7 linked regions of the Homo sapiens genome follow. The protein of the gene in region 5 purifies or fractionates together with the protein of the main gene of each other region. This does not show direct contact. Each region holds a gene or a part of one and is shown on either strand. Other genes may lie near its edges.

The links.
Region 1: the proteins of TNFRSF19 (region 5) and ZNF101 purify together in Homo sapiens (affinity purification with mass spectrometry; 2 studies listed by BioGRID and IntAct, with this or other methods). This does not show direct contact.
Region 2: the proteins of TNFRSF19 (region 5) and PIP4K2C purify together in Homo sapiens (affinity purification with mass spectrometry; 2 studies listed by BioGRID and IntAct, with this or other methods). This does not show direct contact.
Region 3: the proteins of TNFRSF19 (region 5) and HASPIN purify together in Homo sapiens (affinity purification with mass spectrometry; 2 studies listed by BioGRID and IntAct, with this or other methods). This does not show direct contact.
Region 4: the proteins of TNFRSF19 (region 5) and SMR3B purify together in Homo sapiens (affinity purification with mass spectrometry; 2 studies listed by BioGRID and IntAct, with this or other methods). This does not show direct contact.
Region 6: the proteins of TNFRSF19 (region 5) and TPCN1 purify together in Homo sapiens (affinity purification with mass spectrometry; 2 studies listed by BioGRID and IntAct, with this or other methods). This does not show direct contact.
Region 7: the proteins of TNFRSF19 (region 5) and ZNF444 purify together in Homo sapiens (affinity purification with mass spectrometry; 2 studies listed by BioGRID and IntAct, with this or other methods). This does not show direct contact.

What each region holds. Positions count from the first base shown.
Region 1 is NC_000019.10:19,674,739-19,679,014, reverse strand, and holds part of ZNF101 (zinc finger protein 101), read right to left. Parts: intron 3,833-4,276; exon of another isoform or gene 3,817-3,832; coding exon of another isoform or gene 3,715-3,816; intron 3,612-3,714; exon of another isoform or gene 2,500-3,611; intron 1,152-2,499; coding exon 1,025-1,151; intron 290-1,024; coding exon 229-289; intron 1-228. UniProt on the Homo sapiens protein: May be involved in transcriptional regulation.
Region 2 is NC_000012.12:57,589,429-57,594,308, reverse strand, and holds the start of PIP4K2C (phosphatidylinositol 5-phosphate 4-kinase type-2 gamma), read right to left. Parts: upstream 3,118-4,880; 5' UTR 3,020-3,117; coding exon 2,846-3,019; intron 2,090-2,845; exon of another isoform or gene 1,992-2,089; intron 285-1,991; coding exon 187-284; intron 1-186. UniProt on the Homo sapiens protein: Phosphatidylinositol 5-phosphate 4-kinase with low enzymatic activity. May be a GTP sensor, has higher GTP-dependent kinase activity than ATP-dependent kinase activity. PIP4Ks negatively regulate insulin signaling through a catalytic-independent mechanism.
Region 3 is NC_000017.11:3,721,811-3,726,873, reverse strand, and holds HASPIN (serine/threonine-protein kinase haspin), read right to left. Parts: upstream 2,972-5,063; 5' UTR 2,939-2,971; coding exon 542-2,938; 3' UTR 175-541; downstream 1-174. Other genes in the region: ITGAE (integrin alpha-E isoform 1 precursor), read left to right, coding at 3,130-3,186, 3,491-3,586. UniProt on the Homo sapiens protein: Serine/threonine-protein kinase that phosphorylates histone H3 at 'Thr-3' (H3T3ph) during mitosis.
Region 4 is NC_000004.12:70,385,651-70,388,733, reverse strand, and holds part of SMR3B (submaxillary gland androgen-regulated protein 3B precursor), read right to left. Parts: intron 1-3,083.
Region 5 is NC_000013.11:23,657,170-23,661,445, reverse strand, and holds part of TNFRSF19 (tumor necrosis factor receptor superfamily member 19 isoform 2 precursor), read right to left. Parts: intron 2,397-4,276; coding exon 2,232-2,396; intron 1,082-2,231; coding exon 956-1,081; intron 1-955. UniProt on the Homo sapiens protein: Can mediate activation of JNK and NF-kappa-B. May promote caspase-independent cell death.
Region 6 is NC_000012.12:113,294,039-113,297,125, reverse strand, and holds part of TPCN1 (two pore channel protein 1), read right to left. Parts: intron 1,167-3,087; coding exon 1,050-1,166; 3' UTR 1-1,049. UniProt on the Homo sapiens protein: Intracellular channel initially characterized as a non-selective Ca(2+)-permeable channel activated by NAADP (nicotinic acid adenine dinucleotide phosphate), it is also a voltage-gated highly-selective Na(+) channel activated directly by PI(3,5)P2 (phosphatidylinositol 3,5-bisphosphate) that senses pH changes and confers electrical excitability to organelles.
Region 7 is NC_000019.10:56,157,772-56,161,654, reverse strand, and holds the end of ZNF444 (zinc finger protein 444), read right to left. Parts: intron 3,162-3,883; coding exon 3,053-3,161; intron 2,032-3,052; coding exon 1,454-2,031; 3' UTR 762-1,453; downstream 1-761. UniProt on the Homo sapiens protein: Transcriptional regulator. Binds to the 5'-flanking critical region of the SCARF1 promoter.

The sequences.
Region 1 (4,276 bases), on a different chromosome or scaffold from region 5:
CCCCATAGCAGTTATCCAAACAGTGACATCCATGTCACAGATTCTTAGTACCCTGTCCAGACACTCAACATCTACATTACATTGAAGGATAGATTTTTGGTAGCAATCTTCTAATAATCAGTTAAAAACCTAACATTGTACTTATTTGTCTTGTATTTTTTTAAAAATTTTCCTGACCTACTAAGATTCCCTCAAGAGACACTGCTTCCTCTTGTGAGTGGAGATTACCTTAGCTTAATCCCCAGGTTTTGGTACAGATTCTCAATGTCCTGGTCTTTCCATTGGATTCCTAAAATGTAGACCCAGAGAAATTATTATGAATTATTTAAAATTACAGAAAAATCACTAGGTTCTAAGTTCATTAAACACTGCCACAATGCCTGATTTTTTTTTTTTTTTGGAGACAAAGTCTCACTCTGCCACCCAGGCTGGAGTGCAGTGATGCAATCTCTGCTCACTGCAGCCTCCGCCTCCTGAGTTCTAGTGATTCTCCTGCCTCAGCCTCCCGAGTAGCTGGGATTACAGGTATGCACTACCACACCCAGCTAATTTTGTATTTTTAGTAGAGATGAGGTTTCGCCATGTTGACCAGGCTGGTCTCAAACTCTTGACCTCAGGTGATCCACCTGCCTCAGCCTCCCAAAGTGCTGGGATTACAGGCAGGAGCCATCACACCCAGCAATACTTCTGCATTTCTCAACATTATCTCAACATTATCCCAAAGTGCTGGGATTATAGGCATGAGCTGCCACAATTGCCCACCCCCCACTTTTTTTTTTTTTTTTTAAAGAGACAGGGTCTCATCATGTTGCCCAGGCTGGTCTCAAACTCCTGGACGCAAGCAATCTTCCCACCGTGGCTTCCCAAAGCACTAGGATTACAAGGGTAAGCCACTGTACCTGGCCCACGATGCCCCATTTATTCACCAACGTATTCTCTTTCCACATTCCAAACTGTGCAACCACACTGGTGACCAAAACACACTTGTCTTCTAATTGACTAAGGAAGGAAATGTCCTTCTTACCGACCGAGGCCAGGTTCCTGAAGGTTTCCAGCGTCACATCTCTGTAGAGATTCTTCTGGGAAGGACTCAGCAAAGCCCACTCCTCCTGGGTGAAGTTCACAGCCACATCCTCAAAGGCCACTGAGTCCTGAAACATCCCACAGGTGTGGAGGAGGAGGGGTGAGACTCAGCACTGGGGATCTCTACTCAATACATGAGTGATCCCATGACGCCGGGCTCTCCAAACACTCACTCCATGATTGAGTCATCGGCCTCCTCCTATCTACACGCACTTCCTCCCTCGCAGCAGTTCCAGTGTGAGAACTGACCTACTCAGAGAGCCAGCCACAGAGGAGGACCACCCTCTCTGTGGTGGGTCCAGGGAGTCAGTTGTGCTGCTGCGTTGCCCCAAATGCTCTTTGCAGAGTGAATCTCTAGTACCTGTCACAACAAACTCCCACCACCTGGTGTGCAGACAGCGCTCATTTCAGCAGTCCTGAGTCTGGGTATCCTTAGAAAGGCCTGTTTACCAAGTTCGACCTTTGCTACTATCGGGGTCAACTTAGACTACGAGAGGGATCCCATCAACTTAAGTGACAAAGTGGCTTACTGTGGCTAAACGGTTTATGGTATTGACAAACAGGATGGTACTGACTGAACTGTTTTCCTTCTGAAAGCCTACTCTTTTGTTCCAAACTAGAAGTGGTGCCTAGGGCACTAGCCCCAGAAAAACACTCTGGGCACAGAGTCTTTAATGAGCTTTCCTGGGAGACAATATGTCACACGTGTTGTCACAACTTGTCCCCTGGGGAACTGAGCTCATCCCATGTGGTTATACCAAGAGAGAATATCCTGAAGCTTGCAAGCAGTTTACTCTAGACCAAATTTAATCAAGTAGTAAATAAGATTCATGATCAATATTTAATTGTCCTAATGGAAGAATTTTAAAATTTCTGTCAGGTAATGTCAAAGCAGTATGGAGTAAGTGGAAAGATAACATGTGTTCCTAGAAAAAACTCAATAAGATGTCCCTTCTTCCAAATGATATCCTTACAAAATTTCATAAATACCCAATACAGCTGGGTGTGGTGACTCACACCTGTAATCCCAGCACTTTGGGAGGCCGAGGCAGGTGGATCACTTGAGGACAGGAGTTTGAGACCAGCCTGGCCAACATGGTGAAACCCCATCTCTACTAAAAATACAAAAAATTAGCCAGGCGTGATGGCGCATGCCTGTAGTCCCAGCTATTTGGGAGGCTGAGACAGAAGAATCACTTGAACCCAGGAAGCGGAGATTACAGTCAGCTGAGATCATGCCACTGCACTCCAGCCTGGGCAACAGAGCGAGACGCCGTCTCAAAAAAAAAAAAAAATCCCCAAAACAGACATTTTAGGTAAACAAAAGCTACTTTTCCAAACCTCCCACCACCTGGTGTGCAGGAATTAACATCTAATAATTGTCAAAGCCTTCTGAATAGCAGGTGGATGGCTTACCTAACACCAAAGATTTCCAAACCATCACATTCAGGACAGCATACTATTAGCAGAGAGATAAACAAATAGATCAAGGAAAAAGAAGAGTCTTCAATGGGCCAGTATTCATATGAAAACTTGGTTAATAACAGAGCAGGCATGTAGAGTAGTAGGGTGGACCACTTGAGGTCAGGAGTTAAAGACCAGCCTGGCCTACATAGTGAAAACTGGTCTCTATTAAAAATAGAAAAATTAGCCTGGCATGGTGGGCCTGGGCAACAGAGCAAGACTCCACCTCAAAAAACAAAAAAATTAAAAGTTATAGCCACCTCTAGAAAAATTTTTTAAAAACATTAGCAGGGTATGTTAGCAGGTGTCTGTGGTCCTAGCTACTTGGGAAGTTAAGGCAGGAGGATTGCTTGAGCCCAGGAATTCAAGGTTGCAGTGAGCTAGGATTGTGTTACTGCACTCCAGCCTGGGTGACAGAGTGACACTTTGTCTCCAAATAAATAAATAAATAAAGATTGATATAATATTTTTTGAGATAGGATCTCACTCTGTTGTCCAGACTAGAGTGCAGTGGTACAATCATGGCCCCTGCAGTCTTAACCTCCCAGGCTCAAGTGATCATCCCACCTTGTTCCCTACTACAGGTGGGCACCACCACACCCAGCTAATTTTTGTATTTTTTGTAGAGATAGGCTCTCCCTGTGTTGCCCAGGCTCCTCTCAAACTCCTGGGCTAAAGCGATCTGCCCACCTTCGCCTCTGAAAGTGCTGGGACTACACGCATAAGCCACTGTGCCCGGCCTATTATCTTTAAATGAGGCTAAGTCATAGGTCAATAGAATGATTCCCCTCACCTCACCCCTTACACTCACAGCAACAGCAGCAGAATACATACATACAGCAGAGGACAAAAAACTGTACAACTCAGGCTTAATTTCAGAAGTCCTTTAGAATACTTCAGTAAATTATATAACTGATTACGTGGACAAATGTCTACACATACACAATATACCAAGACTGAGTCATGAAAAAACAAAAAATCTGAACAGAGCTGTAGTAGCAGGAGATTGGCATAGTAATAAAAAAAAAATAGCCAGGCACGGTGGCTCATGCCTGTAATCCCAGCACTTTGGGAGGCCAAGGTGGGTGGATCCCCTTAAGTCAGGAGTTCGAGACAGGCTAGCCAACATGGTGAAACTCCGTCTCTACTAAAAATACAAAAAATTACCTGGGCATGGTGGTGGACGCCGGTAATCCCAGCTACTTGGGAGGCAGAGGCAGGAGAATCCCATGAACCCGGGAGGCGGAGGTTGCAGTGAGCCGAGATCATGCCATTACACTCCAGCCTGGGCAACAAGAGTGAAACTCCATCTCAAAAAAATAAAATAAATTAAGAAAAATAATAAATTGGCTGGGCGCGGTGGCTCATGCCTGTAACCTCAGCACTTTGGGAGGCAGAGGAGGGTGGATCACAAGGTCAGGAAATTGAGACCATCCTGGCTAACACGGTGAAACCCCGTCTCTACTAAAAACGCAAAAAAGTAGGCTGGCATGGAGGCAGGCACCTGTAGTCCCAGCTACTGGGGAGGTTGAGGCAGGACAATGGCATGAACCTGGGAGGCAGAGGTTGCAGTGAGCCGAGATGGCGCCACTGCACTCCATCCTGGGCGACAAAACGAGACTCCATCTCAAAATAATAATAATAATAATTTTAAAAACCTCAACGAATACAAAACCCAGGACACCAAATAGTTTCACTGCTGAAATCCACCAAAAATTTAAAAAAGAAT
Region 2 (4,880 bases), on a different chromosome or scaffold from region 5:
GAGAGATAACACTGATTCATATAAGGATATAGGGAACACCAGAAATTATTCTCATGGTTTCCTTGCACAAAACTAATTTCTGCATTTGGGAAGGATGTTAAATTTTCAACTCACTGAAACTTTTAAAATTATTTATTACTCCTTTCTGGGAAGGTTGACATGAGAATGGCAAGGATCATCACTTACCTGTGGAAAAGGTGATTGTTGACCTTGATCTTGGAGCTGGCCTTAAAGTCATCTGGCAGCAGCATCACCGGGGGAGGCACCTGGCTGAGCTCATTGATCTGATAAGCCAAACCATGAATAGGGAAGCCATGAAGAAGGGTGTGGAGAGCTACCCATACACTGTGTCTGGGCAGCAGTCATGCAAGGGCCACTCAGACCTCATTCCTTTAAAAACACTGGCTATGCATATGCTTGACAGAAGTGAGAGAATGTGTCTAACCCTTCTGCTGCCCAAGAAGGACTACAGTAAGCAACCCTCACACACAGCCCCCAACACGCCCACCCCCATGGAACTTCATGCTCACAACAGTCATTTTATATTAGGCTAACCCTGTAAGCAACTCAGGACTATTTTTAAAGCTGTGAGAAATTCTAGAAAAAAAAAAAAAAAAAAAAAAAAAAAAAAAACTCTGCAAGCTCAAGGCAGCTACATGTTCCATTAGAAAAAGAAAAAAAAAGGCATTTTAAAAATGCACAAGAGTGTTAATGGGATTCTGTGGGGCCAACCACAGCAAAAAGGATAAATGTCCATATCCTGCAAAAGGCATCTCTTTGCAAACAGGACCAGTCTTCCTAGACCACTCTGACCCAGTTGTTTGCAGTAGGCCCCCACCTGTCTAAGGTGTAAGGTAAAGGAAGAGCAGCTGATTTCAGAGCGAATGCAGGCAATCAGAGGATATGAGCTCATTAGGCGTCTGTTCCCTAAAGCCAAACTAATCCACAGCCCAAAGGACACAAGCATCACATGCTCTCCTCGGCCCCCAGGATCTGCAGTCTGCTAATTCAGGGTAGAAAGGGAGCTCTAGTACTTAAAAATCCTGAGCCGTGCTTTCTCCTTGGTGTTGCTACAGTACCTTTCACCTGCCTTTGTTACTGCATGACTCTAATCACTAGTTTATGTAAGTTCTCCCATCTAGATTGTGAGCTCTTCAAGAACAAGGGCTCATTCTAGTCGTCTGCATCTTTCAGGTGTCTAACTAGCACAATGTTTGGCACACAGTGATCCTGACATGTCTATTAATTGAATAAATGAATGCCTTGCCTATCCTTACTAGATCATTCCACAGAGGCTATGAACTGCAGTCTAACCTAAATCACACACACTGCAGTGCAACCAACTCCTCCCGTTCTCAGTAGAAAAGGAGGACAGAACATATCCCTCCAGATTAAAAAAAAAAAAAAAGCCACTTGAGACTCCCAGCCTAAAATTCAGCTATAGCTCCTCCTGCCCCCTCCTCCCCACCTGCTAAGCAAGCTGAATCATCACTAAGACATATGTTCAAGGAATTTCTCCATTCCAAACACTTGAAGTAGATGTGTGTTGGCAGAGGGTGGGGTGCTGGGGCTAAAGTATATATACCTAGTGAAGCTGAGGTAGGTCTTACATGTAACTCCCCCAATCCTTAACAAGGGAAAACCCTCCCTGTTAAGCATCCCACAGGGAATGGATGAATCACCTGGAAGGTACATATGAGAGGCAGCCCTACCTCCATCAGCCTTCCCCATACCAAGTGCCTTCCACTGAATACTCACTAAGAGCTTACCACCCAGAGAGCCACAAATCCAAAAGAGATCCGACTGGCCACAAACAACATTCTTAATTTTTGGTTAAGAAATTCTTTACCACAAATTAAAAATGTGACAAAACGCGTATTCTTCCTCACAACTTCCATCTCCACAGCCTAGCCATGACTATATTCAAGAACGCTGATTTCGAAAATATTCCGTGTCACATTCAAGATAACTGCATTTCTCCCACTCCAGACCTGACGGAAGATGGGCAATGGCTGTGCTTCTTTCAGCTGAGGTATCCTCAGGAAAGGGGATGGAGGTCTCCTTGGCCTCCTCCTGACTCCCAGAGCAGTTTCCTGCTTCAAAAGTTCACCACCATAGTGACCTCAGGAACAGAGCCCCTCAGCCTTCTCTTTGGTCAACAATCGCCACCACCTACACCAAACACGATCGCTCTAGCCAGCGATAAGGATGCAGTTAAGACCAAAGGCATATATACATAAGTCCTGAGAGTGTGCAACTTCTAGCTCAGGGTGGGGTAGCTTCTCTAAAATGCTGTACCTCTGGAAGGGAAAGGAAGGGACAAGCAGGATTAGAAAGCCCAGGAAACCTGGAGCTTCCCCGAGACAAAACCAAGATTCAAAAGCCAAGGACCGGGGCTGGGAAGCAAGGTGGAAAGCAAAGTGAAAGAACCTTTTCATCCATCTACTCCCCTCGGCCCCTCACCCTCCACCTACACTCTCACCAACAACCACCCGAGAAAAAGCCACTCCCCCTAATGTCCTCCCCGCTTGCGCCCGGTCCTGGCCAGTCCGCGTAGCCTGAGGCTGAAGCTAGACATGGCAGGAAGGAGTCAAAGCACAGGGAGCTGGATTTCACGGGGGGAAGGTGGAACTAGAGTGGAGCAGTAAAGAACTGTTGGGGAGAAAAAAGTCCACAGTCAGAAAACCTGCTGGGGGAACACCTGGGGTTGGTGGGCAGGGACCAAGACAACCCGGGGGAGGGGAGTGGCACTGCGTGGGGCTCCGGAGGCTGGAGCCTGGAAACAGGGACGCCTCGGAGCCGAGGGGTTTGGACAGGGCTGCGGGGGTCTAGGGCTGGTTCTCACCGAGTGGGCTACGCCCCACAGGAACACACCCACCAGCGGGTCGGCCGCCCGGAACACCTTCACCTTCTGCTGCACGAAATGCTTCTTCTTGGTCTTGGAGGCGAAGCCGAAACCTGGGCCGGGGCCTGCTGTCGCCGCCGATACCGTGGCTGGTGGGACCGAGGAGGACGCCATAGTCTCCCGCGCAACCGACCAAGTGGAAGCCGGAGCCGGCAGCTATCCAGGCGCCCGACCCCGGAAGCGGCGCTCACCTGCGCTGCTGTCACGTGACCGGAGGCCGGACAGCGGACGCGCGAACAGGGCGAGGCAGGACGGGGCGGGGCGACGCTGGCCCCGCCCCCCGGCGCCTGCCTGCCTGCCCCAATGTCCGCTCAGTGTGTGGGCTCACCTGGCGTGCGGGATCCCTGTAAGCTGACGAAGCAAGCGGCCCGCGAGGCCCCTCGAACTGTCAACTAGGAGACCGTGGTGCGGCCTGGGCTGGCCTGATTGACTCCCAAGGTCTAGGGCTTCTTTGCTGCAAAGTGGCCGCCTTCCGGCTTTGCCCAGTTTCTAATGAGTAACCTCGGACCTGATGCTAATGCGAAAGCATTCTTACCGAATGGGGGTTGGGAAGGGGAGGGTTTTGGAAACCCAAAATTCTTACCAGTGGTCTCAAGCGTCTTGAAATTCATTCATTCATTTAACAAGTATTTATTGTGCACTTAGTTGTACTAGGTCCTGTTCTAGGGGCTGATTTTCCTTTTATTGAAGCAGGGTATAGGACAGTGACTGCCCCGAAGTAGTTGGGAGTCTAATGGCACTGGCTGGCCAATGGAGATCAAGTTTGCAGTATGCAAAGTATGAGCTATCCTAGAACTGTGTATGAAGCAAAGACAATGATACAAAGAAAGGAAGTGTAGCTGGTCAGGGAAGGCTTCAAAGAGGATAGAGACTTTACTGAGTTTGGAAGGGTGGGTGGAGTTCAGGAATAGAGGTTAAAAGGCTGTCTAGACAAAGAGAACAGCATACAAAGACATGGAGACAAGAAAGAACGAAGCCGGGCGCGGTGACTCACGCCTGTAATCCCAGCACTTTGGGAGGCCGAGGCGGGAGGATCACCTGAGGTTGGGAGTTCAAGACCAGCCTGGCCAACATGGTGAAACCTCGTCTCTACAAAAATACAAAAATTAGCCGGGCATTAGCCGGGCGTGGTGGCGTGAGCCTGTAATCCCAGCTACTCAGGAGGCTGAGGCAGGAGAATCACTTGAACCCAGGAGGCGGAGGTAGCAGTGAGCCGAGATCACGCCAAGCAGAGATCACGCCAAGCAGAGATCACGCCACTGCACTCCAGCCTGGGTGACAGAGTGAGACTCCATCTCAAAAAAAAAAAAAAAAAAGCCGGGCATGTTGGCAGGTGCCTGTAGTCCCAGCTACTTGAGAGGCTGAGGCAGGAGAATCGCTTGAACCCAGGAGGCAGAGGTTGCAGTGAGCCCAGATCATGCCATTGCACTCCAGCCTGGGCGACAGAGCAAGACTCTGTCTCAAAAAAAAAAAAAAAAAAAAAAAGCCAGATGCGGTAGCTCACGCCTATAATCCCAGCACTTTGCGGGGCCGAGTCGGGAGGATCACCTGAGGTCAGGAGTTGTGGGCAAAGGATTACCCAGGTGCCAAGGCAAGAGACTGAAGGCACAAACTGTTGCAGTATAATAAAGAAAATAGTTAGAATAAAGAGTAGTTACAATACAAATTAGATATAGAGATGATCATGGACAATTATCAATCATCAGTATAAACATTATAAATCATTAGCTTTTAATATTACTCTTTGTGGCATTACTAATATAACCTAGGAATAACCGGCAGGTATAGGGTCAGGTGCTGAAGGGACATTGTGAGAAGTGACCTAGAAGGCAAGAAGTGAGCCCTCTGTCACGCCCGCATAAGGGCCATTTGAGGGCTCCCTGGTCAAGCGGTAACACCAGTGCCTGGGAAGGCACCTGTTGCTTAGCGGACCGCGAAAGGGAGTCTCCCTTTCCGTGGAGGAGTCAGGGAACAC
Region 3 (5,063 bases), on a different chromosome or scaffold from region 5:
TATGCCTGCAATCCCAGCTACTCGGGAGGCTGAGGTAGGAGAATTGCTTGAACCCGGGAGGCGGAGGTTGCAGTGAGCTGAGATCGCACCACTGCACTCTAGCCTGGGTGACAGAGCAAGACTCTGTCTCAATAAAATTAAAAAAAAAAAAAAGAGGGTTTATAAATATAAACGTTTGTTTTCACATGTAGTTTATTTATTTAAAAAAATAGAGACAGGGGTCTTGCTATGTTGACCAGGCTAGATATGAACTCTTGGGCTCAAGCGATCCTCCTGCCTCAGCCTCCCGAGTAGCTGGGACTACAGGCGCACGCCACTGTGCCCGGCTAGTTTACTTCTTTCAGAACATTTGTTATCAGCAAATTTAAACATTTCAACAAATATTTCAGTTTCCATTTGGAAACAAAATTCTTGTTTGAAAAGCTGACTGGAAACCTGTGAGAATGGGAGTTCCACCCTCCTGTGGGGATGGAGGTTGAAACAGCACCAGAGGCTTCAAGACCAGTCTCCTCTCATTTCGGGGCAGTAAGATACATTTAGCTTACTTAAACAGACTGTGCTGGCAGAGCAAGTCAGTGGCAGAGCTGAAGTTCAGCATTGTCCTGTGGAACTCCTGGATTTTTCTCTTAATTTGCTTCATGGCAGGAGTGTTACATTTAGTCTTGAAGGTCATTTGTTTCAGCATCTTGTCTGTCAGGTAATGTAACCAGAGCACATTACTATAAGGGTGATATTCACCCCAGCGGTTGTTATTCTCCTTCTTCATGAGCCTGTAGATGTCAAACTGGTAGTCACCGTCACCGGTAAACAGGTCCTCATCCATGGAAACGTCACAGAAAACCACAATCCCATCCCGTTCCAAGCGCGACAGGGTGTAGTCAATGATGCTCACTTGCAACCCACAGCTGGGGATAGTGCTGCTCTTCCCATTGAGGGTGTAGTGGAGTTTTTTGAGGCTGGTTTTCTTTAAGAGCACGTTCCCCCAGTGTAAGTCTCGGTGCTCAAAGCGCAGTGATGCCTCTGCCACTGCGAGGGAGGCTGTGAGCTGGTGTAGAATGCTCTTTGCAGTAGCCAAGGAAGACAACTTGGTTCGCATTTGCTCTAAGTCAATCCCTCCAAACTCAAATTCCAGCACAATGAAGAGCTGGTCGTCTTTAAAAAAATCAGGCCGGTCATTTGCAGAGCCTTTGGTTGAATTATAGTGATCCCAGGCTTTGAGGAGCAAGGGAGGGTAAGATCCCTGGACACAGTGCACTGAGTTCAGCCCGATAAAGCCTTCTGTGCGGTTGCACACTTCACCGGATAAGAGGCTCAACTCTTTGGAGATGATGATCTCTGGCAGGATTTCCTCAAAGGTTTTCTGATGGGATCCATTGACTAAATCTGGTCCTTCAATAGCAATGATTTTTATGGCTACGGGTGTGTGATCAGCAATTGTTTGAAACACTTCGCCAAACACCCCTTCCCCAATCTTCTCACAGCGTTGCAGTTTTTCTGTGGGAAGGCAATGGCTAAAGGGGACAGGACCCTTCTGACTGCATTCCCCATAAACCTTTTCAGCATCAGATGCCTTTTTGTTTGAAATACTTAGAGTGTTTAAGGGGCTTAGCAAATACATAGAGGAGGAGTGCCAAGAGGACGGAGCACCACTTGTTCTGTTCATGACAGGCCGGTTTGAACATTCTGATAGGAGGGATCCAGAGAGAGAAGTGGCAGTGGTATAGATGCTGCAGACCTCTGACACATCAGTCACAATTTTCTTCTTGTGGAAACTGAAGGAAGCCCTGGTTTTGGTCCAAAAGCAGACATTCTGTAAAGGAGTCAGGTCCTGGGTGGGGAACGAATCTTTTCCCAGCTTTTGGCCCTTTTTAAAGCGGTGGGAATGGAGGAGAGAGGTTTCCGTTGCCTCCTGATGTTTGCTCTTCCGGCTTGATCTAGTTCTCTCCAGCCTGTCTATTCCCCTTGGCACAATGCGGCCCTTGGGAACACTGGCCTCCTGATGCTCTCTCCGGACGGCCTCTTGAAGCCCTCTCTCTTGACAAGAGTCCTGGCCTGTGGCCCTCCTCTTGCCTGTGCTTGACAGACCTGGACCCTCTGGTCCATTTCCCACCACCAGTTTCCTTTTACAGCAGGACTCTCTCATATTCTTCCCATCTGCCCGAAACTCAGAATCCTCAGGGGTTCCTGAGTTCATAAGGCCAAAGAGAACTGACCTGAGGCTGGCGCGGGTTTGGTGGACCATCCTGGTGTCCTTGGCTCCTCCTGTCGCTTCCTCCTGGGAGCAGGGGAGAGATGCTCGGTCCAGGGAGACTTCTGGGAGGTGGAGGCCGCTCGGGACGGCTGAGGCTGCAACCAGACAGGCGGAGGTGCCGATCGAGATGACACTGTCCCTTGGCGTTGGGGACCCGGGGCAGGGCGAGGCCAGAGAGCTGAACAGGGAGGCACTGATGCCCAGCTCGTCGCCGTCCCTGGGCTGGCCGCACACGCTGAGGTCCGGGCTGAGGCGGCCGGAGTCGCGGCTGGGGAAGGGCGGAAGTCGGAGCGGGCCGCAGGGTGTGCTGCACTTCTGCGGGGGCCGAGCTCGCAGCCCCAGGCGTCTTGGGGTCACGGTTAGGCTTGGGCGAGCTCGCAGCTTCCAGCGCTTTGGGGTCACGGTCAGGCTGGGCCGGTCCTTGGGCACTCGGCCGCCGGGACGCCTCCGCCGCCGCCTCACCGGGCTGCCGGGGAAGTCGGGGTCGTCGGGATCGTCAGGATCGTCGGACTGCGAGGGGTCGCCGATGCTGGCGTCGCTGCTGCCGCTGCTGTTGAAGAAACGCCTCCGGTCCTGCGGCGGGAACCACTGCGCGGCTTCCCGGCCCGGCCGCCGCTGTCTCCTGCCGTCCGCAGCCCCATATGTGCGGAAAAGCCGGCTCCCAGGTCCCGGGAGCGAAGCCGCCATGGCCGGCACCCGCCAAGAGGTTCAAACGCAAACATCGCGAGACTTCCGTGCGACGCGGACGCGCCCGCCTGCCGCGGGGTCCTAGCTCCCGGCCCTGCGCATGCGCACCTCGCCAGGGCCGGGGCCGGGACGGGACGGAAAACTGGCGGCTTGGTTTGTTCAGCGCGTCGCGGTCATGGCTCTCGTTTCAGGCCTCCACGGTGTGCACCTGGAGTCAGGAGCGCGCTTGTGCGTACAGTTCGGTTCAGGTAAGCGCGGCCGTCCCGAGAGGCCAGGGGAGGGCGGAGGGCCTGAAGCGGGTAACGAGAGGCCAGGAGACTGTTTTTCCTGGGTTACCCCTGCCGGCCAGTGCCGGGGGCTGCCAGGCCCTCCCTAGCTTCGTCCCTGGGTCTCAATTGCTCCCGCTGGAGCTTCGCTTGGGCCGAGGTGAGCGCTGAAATTGCTCACACCCTCTATTCTGGGACCTTACGATGCTCTGTGTCCGAAGTGTTAAAAAGATTTCAGACTTTCCGCACGGAAAGGAATTGTGTTCACTAGACCTCGCTTTTCCAGCATGTGGAAGAATGGCATTCAGTGAGCTGTGTCATCGCTTCAGATAAAGAAAATGTCACCGTGGCTGCAGAGATCTCCTGGGATCACTCTGAGGAGGTGTTTGAGACTGAAATGCTCCAGATTTGATTATCCAGTTGCTCACGGGCATCGCCCCTAGAAGAGATAATAGCATCTTTGCATAACATGTCCATGTCCAAAATAGATCTTTTGGTGCAAAAAACCAACCCTCTGTCCCAACCCGTTCCTTAGCTACCCTCAGGAGGGAGATATACTCCAGTTACAGTACAAGGAACTCGAGGGATTACCTGTGACTCCTCTTTCCTACATCCCCACGTCTATTCCAGCAGCAAGCCCTGCCATTTCAGGGCCAAAATATATCCTAAACCCATTCACTTCTCTCCATTTCCACTGCCGTTGTAATTCAAGCTACCCTTTCTTGCCAGGGCTGTTGCAATAACCTTCGGCCTGCCTTTCTTGCCTCTGCTTTTCCCACATTCTTTACAAATAATTCCCACGTAACAGCTATCCGTCTTCTAAGAGCAGACATTAGATTGTGCCATTCCCCTGCTTATTAAAAATAACAAACAAACAAAACTGATGCTTGAGCACACTTAGACTAAAATCCATACTTTTTTCATGGCCAGAGCAAGGCAGTACTTGATCTGGTCTCTGCTTAATTCTTCAACTTCATCTCCTAGTACTCGCCTTTCTCTCCCACTGCCCCTTTTATAATCGGGTTATTCTGTCCTATTCTTCTAGCTCGCCAGTACAGCATTATTCTGGCCACAAGACTTTGTACTTGCTGTTCCTTTGCTTGACACTGCTCTTCCTCTAGGTCCTGACGTAGGTGGTTTCTTCTTAAATTTAGCTCAGGTGTTCTTTTCTTTTTTTTTTTTTTTTTTTTAGATGGAGTCTTGCTCTGTCACCCGGGCTGGAGTGCAGTGGCACGATCTCTACTCACTGCAACCTCCGCCTCCCGGGTTCAAGTGATTCTCCTGCCTCAGCCTCCCGAGTAGCTGGGATTACAGGCGCCGGCGACCACGCCCAGCTAATTTTTGTATTTTTAGTAGAGAGGGGGTTTCACCATGTTGGCCAGGCTGGTCTCGAACTCCTGACCTCAGGTGATCGCCCGCCTCAGCCTCCCAAAGTGCTGGGATTACAGGCGTGAGCCACCGCACCCGACCTAGGTGTTCTTTTCTTTTCTTTTCTTTCTTTCAAGACGGAGTTTCGCTCTTGTTGTGCAATGGCACGATCTCGGCTCACTGCAACCTCCGCCTCCCGGGTTCAAGCGATTCTCCTGCCTCAGCCTCCCAAGTAGCTGGGATTACAGGTATGCGCCACCATACCCGGCTAATTTTGTATTTTTAGTAGAGATGGGGTTTCTCCATGTTGGTGAGGCTGGTCTTGAACTCCTGACCTCAGGTGATCCGCCCTCCTTGGCCTCCCAAAGTGCTGGGATTACAGGCGTGAGCCACCACGCCCGGCTAATTTTGTATTTTTAGTAGAGATGGGGTTTCATCGTGTTGGTCAGGCTGGTCTTGAACTCCTGACCTCAGATGATCTACCCACCTCA
Region 4 (3,083 bases), on a different chromosome or scaffold from region 5:
TTCTATGAATCTACAGGCCAAGGAGTTACAATACAAGGCAGGATAAATATGATCTAAAGGGAAATGAAATGAGTGGAATGAGTCTCTGGGATTTCATGTGAGGGTTTGAGTTCTGCTTCTGGCACGTAGAGGTTGGGTGAGTGTGGAATCCTGTTTGAGTCTCTTTTTTCTCATCAGAAAAATGACGTTAATAAAAGGACCCACCTCCTGTTGTTATTGTCAGATTTTTGTTGTGAAATATTACCTGTAAAATGCTTAGAGTGATGATTGGCTCAAGTATGGTTTACATAGAGCACAATTTTTAGAAATAAAAATAGCTGAGGCTGGGCATGGTGGCTCATGCCTGTAATCCCAGCACTTTGGGAGGCTGAGGCAGGTGGATTGCTTGAGGCCAGCAGTTCAAGGCCAACTTGGACAATGTAGCAAAATTCTGTCTCTATTTTAAAAAATAAAAAAAAAATAGCTGAAAAGTAGTGCAAGGAACAAATACATTAAGGAGTTAAAGCGATCAGTTCTGGATAGGAAAATGATGAAGGATTGTTCTAGTGAGAAGAAGTCATTTGAAAAGAGGCTTAAAGAATATAAAATAAGGAGAGAACATGCCAAACAGAATGAAAATACACAAATGCTCTGGGGTAAGAATGAAGTTCCACTCTACTGATGACAAGAAGTCCAGGTTGCTTGGAGCAGATGGTTTACACAGGACACAAAACTACATTCACTTCTTGTGGTTCTCAGTCCCTTCACCTATTTGTCTGGTATTACCCTTGTTAAATCTAAACTTTAGTATTACGGCAAAGCATCTCTGTCCTGGATTCCTAATTCCAGGTTCTTAACAATGGTAGAGGATGTCACAAGCACTGTACCATCAGAAAGTTAGCGTCCTTCAGTGCTGCCTGAAATCCTTTTTTGAGTGTCTTATCTTAGATTATCTCTTCCCACTTCCCCAGAGGCCTGTAATTTTCCAAGTTGATGCCAGTTTTATCAACATTCTCCACCTCATCCTGAGCTATCATTTACCCCCACCAAACTGGCTTTTCTCCTGCTTCACCAAGATATTTCAGGCAATTAGAAATGAACTTCCCTGATTTACTGGCCACACAACCATGGAGTCATTGATAGCTAGGAATTTTCTGTTTCTTTACAAGTGTCTTCTCAGGGACTTGGCTCTGTCAGTCTTCCCTTTACTTCCTGTAACTATAATATTGGAATTTGTTTTCTGAGGAAAATGAGCCAGTTAAATGGCAGGAATTATAAACTGGATCATTTTCTTCAGAAAACAACTATCATTTATGTTCCACTCACCCTTCTCCCCCACAATCCTATTGGCTTTGCATCTCCCTTCCTGAATTCTAAGTCTAACCACTTCTTATCATATCTCTTACTTCCACTTTAACCTAAGTCATTTGTTTTTACCCAAATTACTGTAATGACACCTTGATTTGACTGCTTGATTCTACTCTTACACTTTCACCTAAAATATACAGAAAGTTTAAATAGATCATTTGCAAAAGAAGTATCAAGTTATATTATTTCCCTGCTTATAAAAGGTTCAGTTTCAACCACCGGTACCCTTGTTGTTGATTTTCTTGTCACCTCTTTCCTTCAAAGCGAAACTTTGAAACTTTGAAAGGGTATTCTAGATTTGCCAACTCCACTTCTCATTTCCCATTTGCTCTTCAACCTGGCTTCTGCCTTTAACATGCCAGTAAAAGTTTTATTAGGATCACTAATACAACAAATGAAAAATACCAAGGCACTTCTGTAGAACTGGCCTCATGTTTGTCTTCTCTAGCTAATGACATTCTGTGGTATTATGGAGGGCATTTGACCCAAGTGCTGCCAAGCCAAAGACTAGTCAGGATGTATGGAAGTTCAGGACTTGATTTTTAATTGTCAAGAAAACAAATCCTTAGTGTGGGAAAATACTCCATTCACTTTTATTGTTGAAACAATTAAAAAATTAGCTGAAAGTGCCCTCGCCTCCTAAAGATATCCTGATGTTGATCTTAATATTAAGTAATGAAAAATCTTCATAGTAAGTATACCCAATCACATTGATTAGCTCCCTTTCCGCAACTGGCTAAAGGTAACGAACTCAGAAAAATGATGAAAATACTATTTTAAGAAGAAACACTACGCTCTCGAAGGACTATAATTGGCACTAATCTCCTACATTACTTTATTTAGGAACAGTCCATCTAAGACACGGATACTTTGAACCTAAATTTATTTGTATTTTAATGGGACTAATAGTAGTTAGACTTGCTTTATTTGTGTGTGTGTGTGTGTACATATACACACACACGTAAAGGACATGCTACCCTTCATATTTCCAACATTCAATAATTATTAATCATCATGAATCTCATATAATTAAGTTGGGGAAAGGTTGATTTCCATTTAAACTGCTTATGTTATCAGAAAACTATCTTTTTCTTTTTTCTTTTTTTTTTTTTTTGAGATAGAGTCTCACTCTGTCACCCAGGCTGGAGTGCAGTGGCACAATCTTGGCTCGCTGCAATGTCCACCTCCCGGGTTCAAGCGATTCTCCTGCCTCAGCCTCTGGAGTAGCTGGAATTACAGGTGCATGCCATCATGCCTAGCTAATTTTTGTAATTTTGGTAGAGACAGCGTTTCACCATGTTGGCCAAGCTGGCCTTGAACCCCTAACCTCAAGTTACCACCTGCCTCAGCCTCCCAAAGTTCTGGGATTGCAGGCGTGAGCCACCGTGCCTGGCCCAGAAAGTTATCTTTTTCAAATTAATCTTATAAAAAAAAATTTATATAATAAAAGCCTGATACTTTGAAATTATAAATGTTTTTCTTTTGTATTCTGAGGGAATAAAAATATTGAAAATAAGCTTTATAATCAAGCCATTAAGATATTACCTTTAAAATATATCAATATATTTTATTGGTTTATTAAAAATTATGTCAACATATAATGCTCTCAGTAATTTAGCCAAGGTCAGACTACCTCAGTAACCTTAGAATTTCCTGATTTTGTTCCTTTTTGAAAGTAGATGAGGCCGGGCACGGTGGCTCACGCCTGTAATCCCAGCACTTTGGGAGGCCGAGGC
Region 5 (4,276 bases):
TCAATTACAGACTGGATAAAGAAAATGTGGCATATATACACCATGGAATACTATGCAGCCATAAAAAGGGATGAGATCGTGTCTTTTGTGGGAACATGGATGGAGCTGGAGGCCATTACCTCAGTAAACTAAGGCGGGAACAGAAAACCAAATACCACATGTTCTCACTTATAAGCAAGAGCTAAATGATGAGAACACATGAACACAAAGAAGGGAACAACACACAATGGGGTCTACTTGAGGGTGGAGTGTGGGAGGAGGGAGAGGAGCAGAAAAAGAAACTATTGGGTACTAGGCTTAAATAATTAAATAATCTGTAAAATAAACGTGTAACATCAGTTTACCTATATAACAAACCTGCACATGTACCCCCAAACCTAAAATAAAAGTTTTTAAAAAGTTGGTATTACCTTTGCCCCTATTTGCCCAAGTTAGAGACCAGTTTCCCTTTGAATTACTTTCCTAAACTTTCAATCTGTCAATAGTCCAAGGGGCAATTATGGTTTGTGTAAAACCTTGAAATGGACTTCTCAGCTCTCTCTTCTTTAAGAAATTCTAAAAATAGATATATTTTTATAATAGACATATTTTTAAAATAGGCATATTAGTGTTTGGTTTGAATCAACCAGACAGCAAAGGATATAAAGTCCTACTCTACCAAAGGTTACCGTGATTTTAAATAAACTGACTCAAAACAAGAAAGACAAACATGACCCAAAAGTTGCTGAAAAATTCTAGAATTTTAACGAGATGCTTATTTCCTTTTTAATGCTTAAGAGACTCGAAACACCCAAACCAACAGGAGATGGTGGAGAATAATTTAACAAGATTAGTTTTAACCAGAAGACTCAACACAGCCACCTCGCTGTGAGGTGAATAAACCAGGACCAATTCTTGCTGCTTCAGCTTCTGTGTACCTCCAGTCCTCCTAACGGCACTTCCCTGCTGAACTTACCGCAGGTCTGCACTGAGTCACGGCGGCACTGGCAGCAGGCTCTGTGGGCATATTCGTGGAGCTGAGGTCTGTCAAAACACGACAGCTCAGAGCCGTTGTACTGAATGTCCTGTGACCGCAGAGACCCTAAATGAGGGGTGAGAACTCTGTCAGGGAACACAGTCTCCTCTCTAGTGGACCTGTGCCATTCTAGCTTTTGTATTTTTAAAGAACAAATCAGCTATCCTTCCAATGTTTGATGACTTCTTCTTACATGGAAGCACAAACATGAAATAATTTGTTAAGAAAGTTCAAAATGTAGGGTACTAATGTTGCCATTACTGAGAATGATTTTTATTTTTGCCTAGTGGCGCAGGGACATCACAGCCTTGTAAGTCTCCTTACAAAGCTGTGCAACCTCAGTGAATTCTACAGATGACCCTTAAGCAACACGGGTTTGAACTGCGCAGGTCACTTATACACAGATTTTCTTCAGCCTCTGCCACGCTGAGACACCAAGGCCAACCCTCCTCCTCCTCCTCCTCAGCCCACTCAACATGAAGATGATGAGGATGAAGGCCTTTACAATGATCCGCTTCCACTTAATGAAGAGTAAATCTATTTTGTCTCCCTTATGATTCTCTTAGTAACATTTTCTTTTCTCTAGCTTACTTTAATGTAAGAATACAGGGCATAATACATATAATAGGCCGGTGCAGTGGCTCACATCTGTCATCTCAGCACTTTGGGAGGCCGAGGCAGGCGGATCACGAGGTCAGGAGTTCGAGACCAGCCTGGCCAACATGGTGAAACCCCGTTTCTACTAAAAATACAAAAATTATCCAGGCGTGGTGGCGGGCGCCTGTAGTCCCAGCTACTCCGGAGGCTGAGGCAGGAGAATCACTTGAATCCGGGAGGCAGAGGTTGCCATGAGCTGAAGTCACGCCACTGCCCTCCAGCCTGGGTGACAGAGCCAGACTCTGTCTCCAAAAAAACAAAAAAACAAAGAAACATATAATAAACAAGATGTATTAACCAACTGTTTATCAGTAAGGCTTCCCGTCAACAATAGGCTATTAGTAGTTAAGTTTTTGGGGAGTCAACACTGACGTGTGGATTCTTAACTGCTCTCCTAGCCCTCTGCTGTTCAGGGATCACCTGTGTTTCTTGTGCCCTGCGTTCTTTCACAACTCACTGGTGCTTGTCTCAGCCAAGTCTCTTGTGGAACACTTGCACGACAATAGTAATAAATGCCCTTCCCCTAAATGCTAAGAAATGTAATGAGCTCAAAACTTACAGCTGGGTTTCTTCTCCATAAACTGTCTCTTACAATAGATGACACAGAGGATGAGCAGGGCCAGCAGGACGGTGGCCAGAGCGCTGCAGATAACGGCAGCCAGCGCCGTGTCCCGTGGGCTGGAGGCCGTGGACGCGATCTTCACGAGGTTGACCTTGCTGGCACCTGAAACCACAGGAATGGGGTCAGCATGCTCTGAACAACTGCAGATGCAGTGTTTATGGCGAAGCTGGCAGGCACCCTTACCAGTGGCCTTCCCATGCTGTGAGAAAACTGGCATGAGATATTTAAAGATGGCTCAAGCACCCCCTCCACCCAGAAGATGTCTTTAATGGGACACCTTTACCCGGCACCCCACAATGTGCAGGGTGTCCCTCTCCTCTGTTCCCAGAGCGCTACGGACACACAATCCTCAACACATTGTGTTACTAGAATCTGCCTTCAGCTCCACCAGAGCAGAATTCTTTGTGAGCTGGGGGTCTGTCATCTTTACCTCTGGTTGCCCAGTACTTGGCATGTGGCAGGGAACTAATGTTTTGTACTTAATTGGAATTACACCATATTTTTAAGCAGACTGAATGCATGTATGCTTTTTGGGGCAACTTTAGGGGAAAACAAGGAGTTGGATCATCCAGAACCTTACAGTAGACCCCAGTTTTTGAGACAGTAAACATCTCTGAATGCCTTAGCTGTTAAACTACTGGAAAACATCTAAGTTTTGGAGAAAAGACTAATACTGTTATTACACTATGGAAAGGCCGGCATAGTCATGTGCTAAGAAAGTCAAGAAATAGATCTTATTTTAGAGGGCAGTACTGCTTTGTGGTTCAGGGCAGATTCTGAACCCCATGGCCTGGGTCAACCTCTACCTGTGTGACCTTGAGACACTGACTGGAATTTCAAGTTGCCATCTGTTCAAATGGAGGTAATAATAGTGACTGGCTCATGTGTTATGTAAAGTGTGTGGGACTGGCTGTGCTGTAGAATCATTAGCCACTGTAATGATGATGATAGTAATTACCATTTTAAAACTATCCTGAGGGTACCAGGATAAACAAACTCATTTAAATCAGAGATCTATATCTAGTGCAGTTAAACAGCATATCCTACTTAACTAACCCCAAAATAATGAGAGAAATGGATTTAAAAGGGGCATGAATCTACACAGAGGGGCAGTTACATTTTCTCTTTCCCAAGCAGATGCCCTGAGTGAGCTGAGGGGCCCTCACTCTGCTTCCCCGGCAGGTGCTGCTCACCACAGGAGCCTCCCCTCGACTGAAGATTACTCCAGGTAGAGGTATAATGTGTGCTTCACATGTCATTTCAGGTTGTCTAGGAACCACATTTAAAACGTAAAAGAGAGGCAAGGTGCGGTGGCTCATGCCTGTAATCCCAGCACTTTGGGAGGCTGAATTGAGAGGATCCCTTGAGCCTATGAAGCTGCAGTGAGCTGTGATCGCACCACTGCGCTCCAGCCTGGACGACAGAGCGAGACTCTGTCTCAAGAAAAAAAGAAGAAGAAGAAGAAGAAGAAACAGGTAAAATTAACTTTAGTCTATTTTACTTAGCCAATATATCTTAAATATTGCATTTCAATATGTATTCAATATAAAAATTATTTATGACATATTTTGCGTTCTCTATTTTGTATTAAAATTTTAAAATCCGGTGTGGTTTTAAAGACACAGCTCATCTGAATTCAGACTAGCCACACTTCAAATGCTCAGTAGCCACATGTGGCTAATGGCTATCATAATGGACACTGCAACTCTAGAGATTGAAGGTCTGTGTCTATATTTGTACAAGATGGCACCTAAACACAAGCCAATTTGTCATCTGGTGCCTTTCTCCTTCTCCCTGGCTACACACCCCTCACTCCCAATAAGATCGTATGACACCTGAGACTACAGCCCCAGAGAGAAACACTTGGGTTAATATTACTGAATCATAAAAACAGGATAGCAGGAACTATCATCTTGGAGCATGAGTCTTGGTATTTCCAGTCTCAGTGATTCTAGGCCACACATATAAAAGTCTCTTATTGC
Region 6 (3,087 bases), on a different chromosome or scaffold from region 5:
TTCTGCACCAACCGCTCCTGCTATGGAAATCTCTGGTGTGAGCAGAGCCAGGGAGGGTGGCTGGGAACTGGGCCGGGGCCACGGGGCTGCTGCGTCCCACAGGGAGCGTCTCTCTGTGCTGTTCGCTCCTGTTCCTAGTGCACACGTGTGAAGGACCTGGTATCGGCTTTAGCACAATCCTTAGTTAACCAAAACGTTGTTTTGCTTGAACGGGTAAATCGCAAAAAAAGGGATTTGGTCAAGAGCCCATTCCACGAAGTGGTCTGGGTTGCAGACATCGGCCCCACTTCCTGCCTCATGCCCCTTCCTCCGGGTTCTGGGTCCCCAAGGAGGCCACTGTGGAAGAGTTTTCGCCAACAAGGGTTAAGCCAGAGAAGGCTGGGTGGGAGGCTTGCAGAGCCAAGGGAGGAGATTGGTCAGTGTAATCTGTGGCCGCCCGGCACTGGCTAACTGAGCTCTGGCCACATGGGCCCAGTTGCCCCAATTCCGCTTCCATTAGATCCTGGGCACTGGTCCCCGAAGAGGTGTTGCGTGACATTATCACAGACACTGAAATACCACCCTGGAGACCGGGAGTTCTTTCCTTCCTAAGTGGTTCTGTCCCTAAAGCAAAACACAGAAACCTGTGGCATGGGCCGCAGGGAGAGGGGGCGGGCACGCCATCAGGTCGGGGGGATGTGAGCCTGAAGCAGTAGCAGTGACAGCTTTGGACGTGGCCGATGGAGGCCAGCCCACATGAGGGGCAAGCCCCGCAGTCGACTGGATCCAGGTGAGGGGTCTCCTTGTGAAGGGCCTTCTGGAGCCTTCCACAGTAGGAAGAGCTCAGACCTGGTGGCCGCACCCCCACCCCTCACCAAACTGGCTTCTGGAGTTAAGGAAGACAGGGCAAGGTGGTTATAAACCAAGCCCCATCTTGTCTGTCTTTTTTCTTCCTGTATATAAATATGTGCATATACGTGAGTATGTGTACACACACCGCAGTTCCGTACATCGCAGTAGAGTAATACTATTGTGTTATTGCATAGAAGAGACGGCTTTCGGGCGCTGGGCTAGGTAACGGTCTGGGAGCGCTGGCGGCTGCCTGGGGGCTGCTGGGCGGCGGGGGCTGCACTGCTGCTGAGTTGTCGCTGCTGCTCTTGCTCCCTGGCATGCTCCTCATACCACTCCTGGAGAAGAGAGCAGAAGGGGTGCTGAGGGCTGCACCCCACCCCCTGCCCCGCCCACCCCACAAGGTCACACAGCCCACAGCATCCAGGCTGGAAGGGGCAGGGCTGCCAGCCTCACCCAGCTGGTACTGAAACCCCCGTCACAGGCCCAGAAATGCTGGGAATTTTGAATGTGGCCCCAGAGGCAAAAATGACAATGAAATCTTTCCCTAGTGTCTGGAGGTTTGCGCATAACAGCTCTCTAACAGGCCCAGGCAGGAACAACCCTCACCCCTTGTTTGTGAGCATAACCTTTTGTCCTTCACTAAAGGGCCCCCCGAGTGACCCCTTTTGAGCTTGGCAGGAATTGTGTCCCTGTTTCACACCCGAGACACCGAGGCTTAGAGCTGTATTGTGCTGAATACCTCACCTGCCTAAGGCCATGATTATAAACTCTGACATTTTCAGGGACTGAGGTATTCAGGTAATTAAGGAATTAAGTATACCCCACATTTCCTTTTTTTTTTTTTTTTTTTTAGGAGACAGAGATTCACTGTGTGGCACAGGCTGGAGAGCAGTGGCGAGGTACGGCTCACTGCAGCCTCCCACTCCTGGGCTCAAATGATCCTCCCGCCTCAGCCTCCCAAGCAGCTGGAAATACAGGTGTGCACCACCATACCCTACCCTACTTTTTAAAAGACTGAACCATAGACTTTTAGAGCTTCGAGATGGCCTAGTTCTGGCCCCCTTGTTTTACAGAGGGGGAAACTGAGGCCTGGAGCAGATGGACAGGCAGAAGGGCAGAGGCCAAGGGCAGCACACCTCCTTCCAACCACACCTGAATGGGTGCTGCTGCACAGTCATCCCCTTGCACAGACAGGGAGGCATGGAGTGACTGCCCAAGGTCAAACGCTTCTATTATTTCCATGTTTCTGTGACACCAAGTTCAGTGAGCCACTACACATCAGCCCAAAGAACACTGCCTGAGTCTCTTGTGTTCCCGGAGAATGTGTAAGCTGCTTTGGGGACAGCACCCCCCGCTTTTCAGGCATGGACCCTGGTTGTCACTGTTTTAGTGAAACAGAAGGGCTTCAAGCTATTAGAATGCCAGAAAACAGAGCAAAGCCACCATAGCTGGTGTGGGAGAGGCTCCCCGGAGCCCTGGCAACCCTGAGGTGGTTGAGAAGACTCTGCAGGGCTCATGGGCTGGTGGCCCATGGTCTGGAAGGCACCGTGCCAAATGCCAGCCCACACGGTGCTTTGTGAGATATTTTCCTTAGCTGCCAATATGTAAAGATTGGGAGGTCATGCAAAAAAAGAAAAACATCTGATTCTGCCTTTTTTTTTTTTTTTTGAGACAGAGTCTAGCTCTGTCACCCAAGCTGGAGTGCAGTGGCATGATCTTGGCTCACTGCAACCTCTGCCTCCTGGAGTCAAGTAATTCTCCTGACTCAGCCTCTTCAGTAGCTGGGATTACAGGTGCACGGAACCAGGCCTGGCTAAATTTTGTAATTTTAGTAGAGACAGGGTTTCACCATGTTGGCCAGGCTGGTCTCGAGCTCCTGGCATCAAGTGATCCGCCTGCCTTGGCCTCCCAAAGTGCTGGGATTACAGGCATGAGCCACCATGCCTGGCCTGCCTTTTCTTAAATTAGAAGCCAAGGTGGAAGAATTGCTTGAGACCAGGAGTTTGAGACCCCAGCAAGACCTCACTGCTACAAAAATAAGGTAATTAGGGTGTCACAGTGCACACCTGTAGTTCCAGCTGCTTGGGTAGGCTGAGTGGGGAGGATCACTTGAGCCCAGGGGTTGGAGGCTACAGTGAGCTATGATCACGCCACTGGACTCCAGCCCAGGTGACAGAGCGATACCATCTCTAAAACAAAACAAAACAAAAAACACCCAATTATGAAAAATCCCAAGCACTCCCAGCCTGGCCAACA
Region 7 (3,883 bases), on a different chromosome or scaffold from region 5:
GGGTTTGACATAGAACCCCTCCCAGGCTCAGGCGCTGGGCACACAGGAACCAAAAGGACCAGGGTGAAGCCAGCCCCAAGACTGGGCGGCAGGGGAGTGGTCAGACCAGCGCTCTCATCCTACGCTTTCCAAAGCCCGGCAACTGCCCTTCATCCACCCGGCAGAGGCTACAGATTTCCTCTCTGGAGAGAAGGAACCGGGGTTGCTCGCTGAGCTGACAAGAGGTGGCATCCTGGAAAGATGCAGCTGGCCAAAGCCTGCCCTCCATACGGAGTCCCCCCCTCGGCCAATGGCTCCAGCTAAAGGTGAGAGAATTCCTTGCGTGGCAGAATGGGCCACCCAAGACCTACCAACACTGACACTCAGGACCCCAGTCAAACAGAGTGGCCTTAGCAAGGGAGGTGGGTGCCATTATCATCACTTGCGGATGTGGAACTCATGCCCAGAGGGTATGACCAACCTGTAGGTTCCCAGCCAGGAAGCTGAAGGGCTCAGATGCGAACCTGACTCAGTGTGGCACTCGGCAGGTCCCTTCCAGGAGCCTCATCCCTGCCTCCGTAGGATGGAGGTGGGGACAGCCCTCCTGAGGACACATTTCCTGCACTGCCTCCCACAGCTGTGCCCAGACTCCCAGAGCCTCTCTCATGCCAAGAGAGTCTGTGGTGGGAGCCAAGACAGCTGACCCCAGAAGCCCCGGGCACCCCAGACGCTCGGCCCTGGGAGGGTGGCTGTGCCGGACAGACTCCAGACAGAGCTCAGACTCCGGGTCTACACACAGTGACTTTATTACTCTATGGATGCTGGTGAACTGCCCTCCCCAACCAGCTTCACGGGGGCAGGCATCTCTGTCCATCCCATGCCTTTGGGTCACAGGGGGCAGCAAGACCAAGAAGACCACAGCCAGGCCCTGGGTTCAGCTTCAGAGCCATCACCCGCTGCCTCCCCCAACCCCCAATCTCCTGAGGGAGGAGAATTCCTAGGGACAAGACCCAGACCCCTTTCCTTCAGCCTCTGCTTCACCAAGGGGGCCTGGCCTGCGCCCGAGCTCCTCCTGGCCTGCCCCTCAGGGGTCCCAGGTCCTCACCTCTGCTCTTCAGGCAGGAAAAGGGCAGGGAGAGAGGAATGGAGGAGGGAGAGGGAGGCTGGGCCGCAGGAGAGAGAAGAGGGGGGAAGGAGGAGACATTAGGGAGAGGCCCCTTCACACAGAGAGAGAGGCCGAGAAATCAGGGAGAAGGGGGGGGCTGAGGTGAGACCTGAGAAGGAAAGTGAAATTTGGGGGAAAAGGAGTTGGAAAGGAATAGGAAGGCGTTGGGAAGTTCAGACAAGGGAGGCGCAGGTGGAGGAGGACGATGGGAGGGAAGGAGGAGAGGAAGAGGCCAAGTGGCGCTGGGAGAGAGCAGGTACCGCCCGGGGGCAGCACCAAGGGCGGGAGATGGCGCTGGCCGGGAGGCGGCTAACCCAAGGGCCAGGGCGGGAAGGGGCCTCCACCATCCGGGCCCGGAGCTACCGCCCCCTGCGCGCTGGCCGCTGCCCGGCCGTGGATGCGCTGGTGGCGCAGCACGTGCTCGCGGCGCCCGAAGCCCTTGCCACACTCCCAGCAGGCAAAGGGCCGCGCTCCCGAGTGCGTCTTGCGGTGGCGCACCAGGTGCTCGCGCCAGTAGAAGGTCTTGCCACACTCGCAGCACGCGTGGGGCTTCTCACGGGCGGGCAGAGGGCGCAGCGCGGGCCCGGGGCTGCCGGGGCTGCCGGGGTGCGTGTCGCGGTGGCGCCGCAGGTGCTCCTTGCGCCGAAAGGCCTTCCCGCACTCAGGGCAGGCGTGCGGCTTCTCGCCCGAGTGGCTCTGCCGGTGGCGCAGCAGGTGAGCTGGTTTCAGGGACGTTTTGCCGCACTCGGGGCAGGACGTGGTGCCCGGGGCCGCTAGGAAGGCGGGCAGGCCAGGCGCCAGCGGGGGGCTGCTGGGCTCCTGCTTGTAGGGGCGCACAGCCTGGGAGTCCCCAGGCGCCGGCCCCTCAGCCCCAGGGGCGGTGCCTGCTGGGAAAAGAAAGAGAGTCAGCATCTGGGTCGGCACGAGGGCGGGGCAAGGACAGCACAGGCTGGGGTGGAGGCAGGGAGGGAACGCTTAAAGGCAGAAACCATTGGGGTGGGAAGAGGGCTGGGCTGTGGGCTTCTTATTCATACCTGTGTCCCGGTACCTAGTAGTGCCTGGCATACAGTCAATGCCCAATACATAATAGATGATGGCTGGCTGGATGATGGATGGGTAGATGAATGCGTGGGTAGATGAAGAATGCGTGGGTGGATGATGGGTGATGAATGGACCGATGATGGATGGATGAATGTACAGATGATGGATGGGTAGATGAAGAATGCGTGGGTGGATGAGGGGTGGATGAATGTCTAGATGATGGATGGGTGGGTGGATAACTAGATGGACGGATGGGTGATGGATGGGTAGATGATGAATGCATGGGTGGATGATGGGTGGATGAATGTACAGATGATGGATGGGTGGGTGGATGACTAGATGGACGGATGGGTGATGGATGGGTAGATGATGAATGCATGGGTGGATGATGGGTGGATGGATGGACGGATGATGGGTGGATGAATGTACAGATGATGGATGGGTGGGTGCATGGGTGGATGAGTAGATGGATGGATGGGTGGGTCATGGATAGATGGGTGATGATGATGGATGACAGAGGGATGGTGGGATTGGTGTGAGGGGGAACATGTGAAGGATGGATGGATGCCTGGGAGAATGATAGAGGGATGGATGGGTGAATGGGTGGGTATATGATAGAGGAATGGATAGGTGGAGGGTGGATGATGGCTAGATGGGTGCATGGATGGATAGATGGATGGATGAACCTCCAACCCCGAGGCCCACCCATACCCCCAATGCCCGCCCCTTGGGTCCGAACCCCGGGGCTCCTCAAGGGCTGGGGTCCAAGTCTGTCCTTGTCCTGGGTCCTGGTGCCAGGATCGTTCACTGAACCCCCTCCCCGGTGCTGGGGGCTGGCGGGGAGAACCAGAGAGGCCAGCAGCTCACCTAAGGGAATCATCCCACTGTCCTCCTTTCCACCTGTGGCCCCAGGGCCCTGCGTCACATCCTGAGGCACCCTCGTTGCTGACGACCCATCGGGGGAGGCTGCTGGCCCCTGAAATGAGAGCACAGTTTTGAACTCAGAAACCTGAGCAAGGGCCTCTATTTCTCCCTCTCCCAACCACCGTCGACCAGCTGTGCAATCCCATCCCTGCTGGGAGGAAGCCACAGTCATGCTGGGCGACACTGAAGCTGCCCCACAGAGAGGCCCCCAGGTGAGGAACCAAGGCCTCCTGCCAACCCCCTGCCAGGGAGCCATCTTGAAGCCACCAACCTTCAGATGACAGCCTGGCCAACACTGCACTGTGACCTCACAGGAGACCCTGGGCCAGGTCCGCGTGCCCAAGCCACTCACAGACTCCGGACCCACAGAGGCTTTCTGAGCTGACAGATGTTACTGTTTACACCCCTGAGTGTGGGGTGACTTGTCAGGAAGCAAGAAATAACTAATACACCTGTCTCAGATCAGCTTCGTCCTGCCCTTTGGATAAAGTGCAAGCTCCTTAACAAAATGCAGAATATATAAGCTACTTTTAACTTGGGAAAAAAGTAAACTAAGTTCAGAAACAACTTTTCTTGGTGTGAAACAGCAGAACAGCTGCCAAGCAGGACGGCACCAACCAGGAAGACCAAAAATTTAAAAAGTTTCAGTCCAACTCGTTGTGGTTTCTTCGCCCTACTACATAATTCCTCAAAACCACGTCCCCAAGGGAAAGGGATGAGAATTCTTCTGGTGCCTATGACAGCTAAGTCACGCACCACACCTTTTCCCCGTTT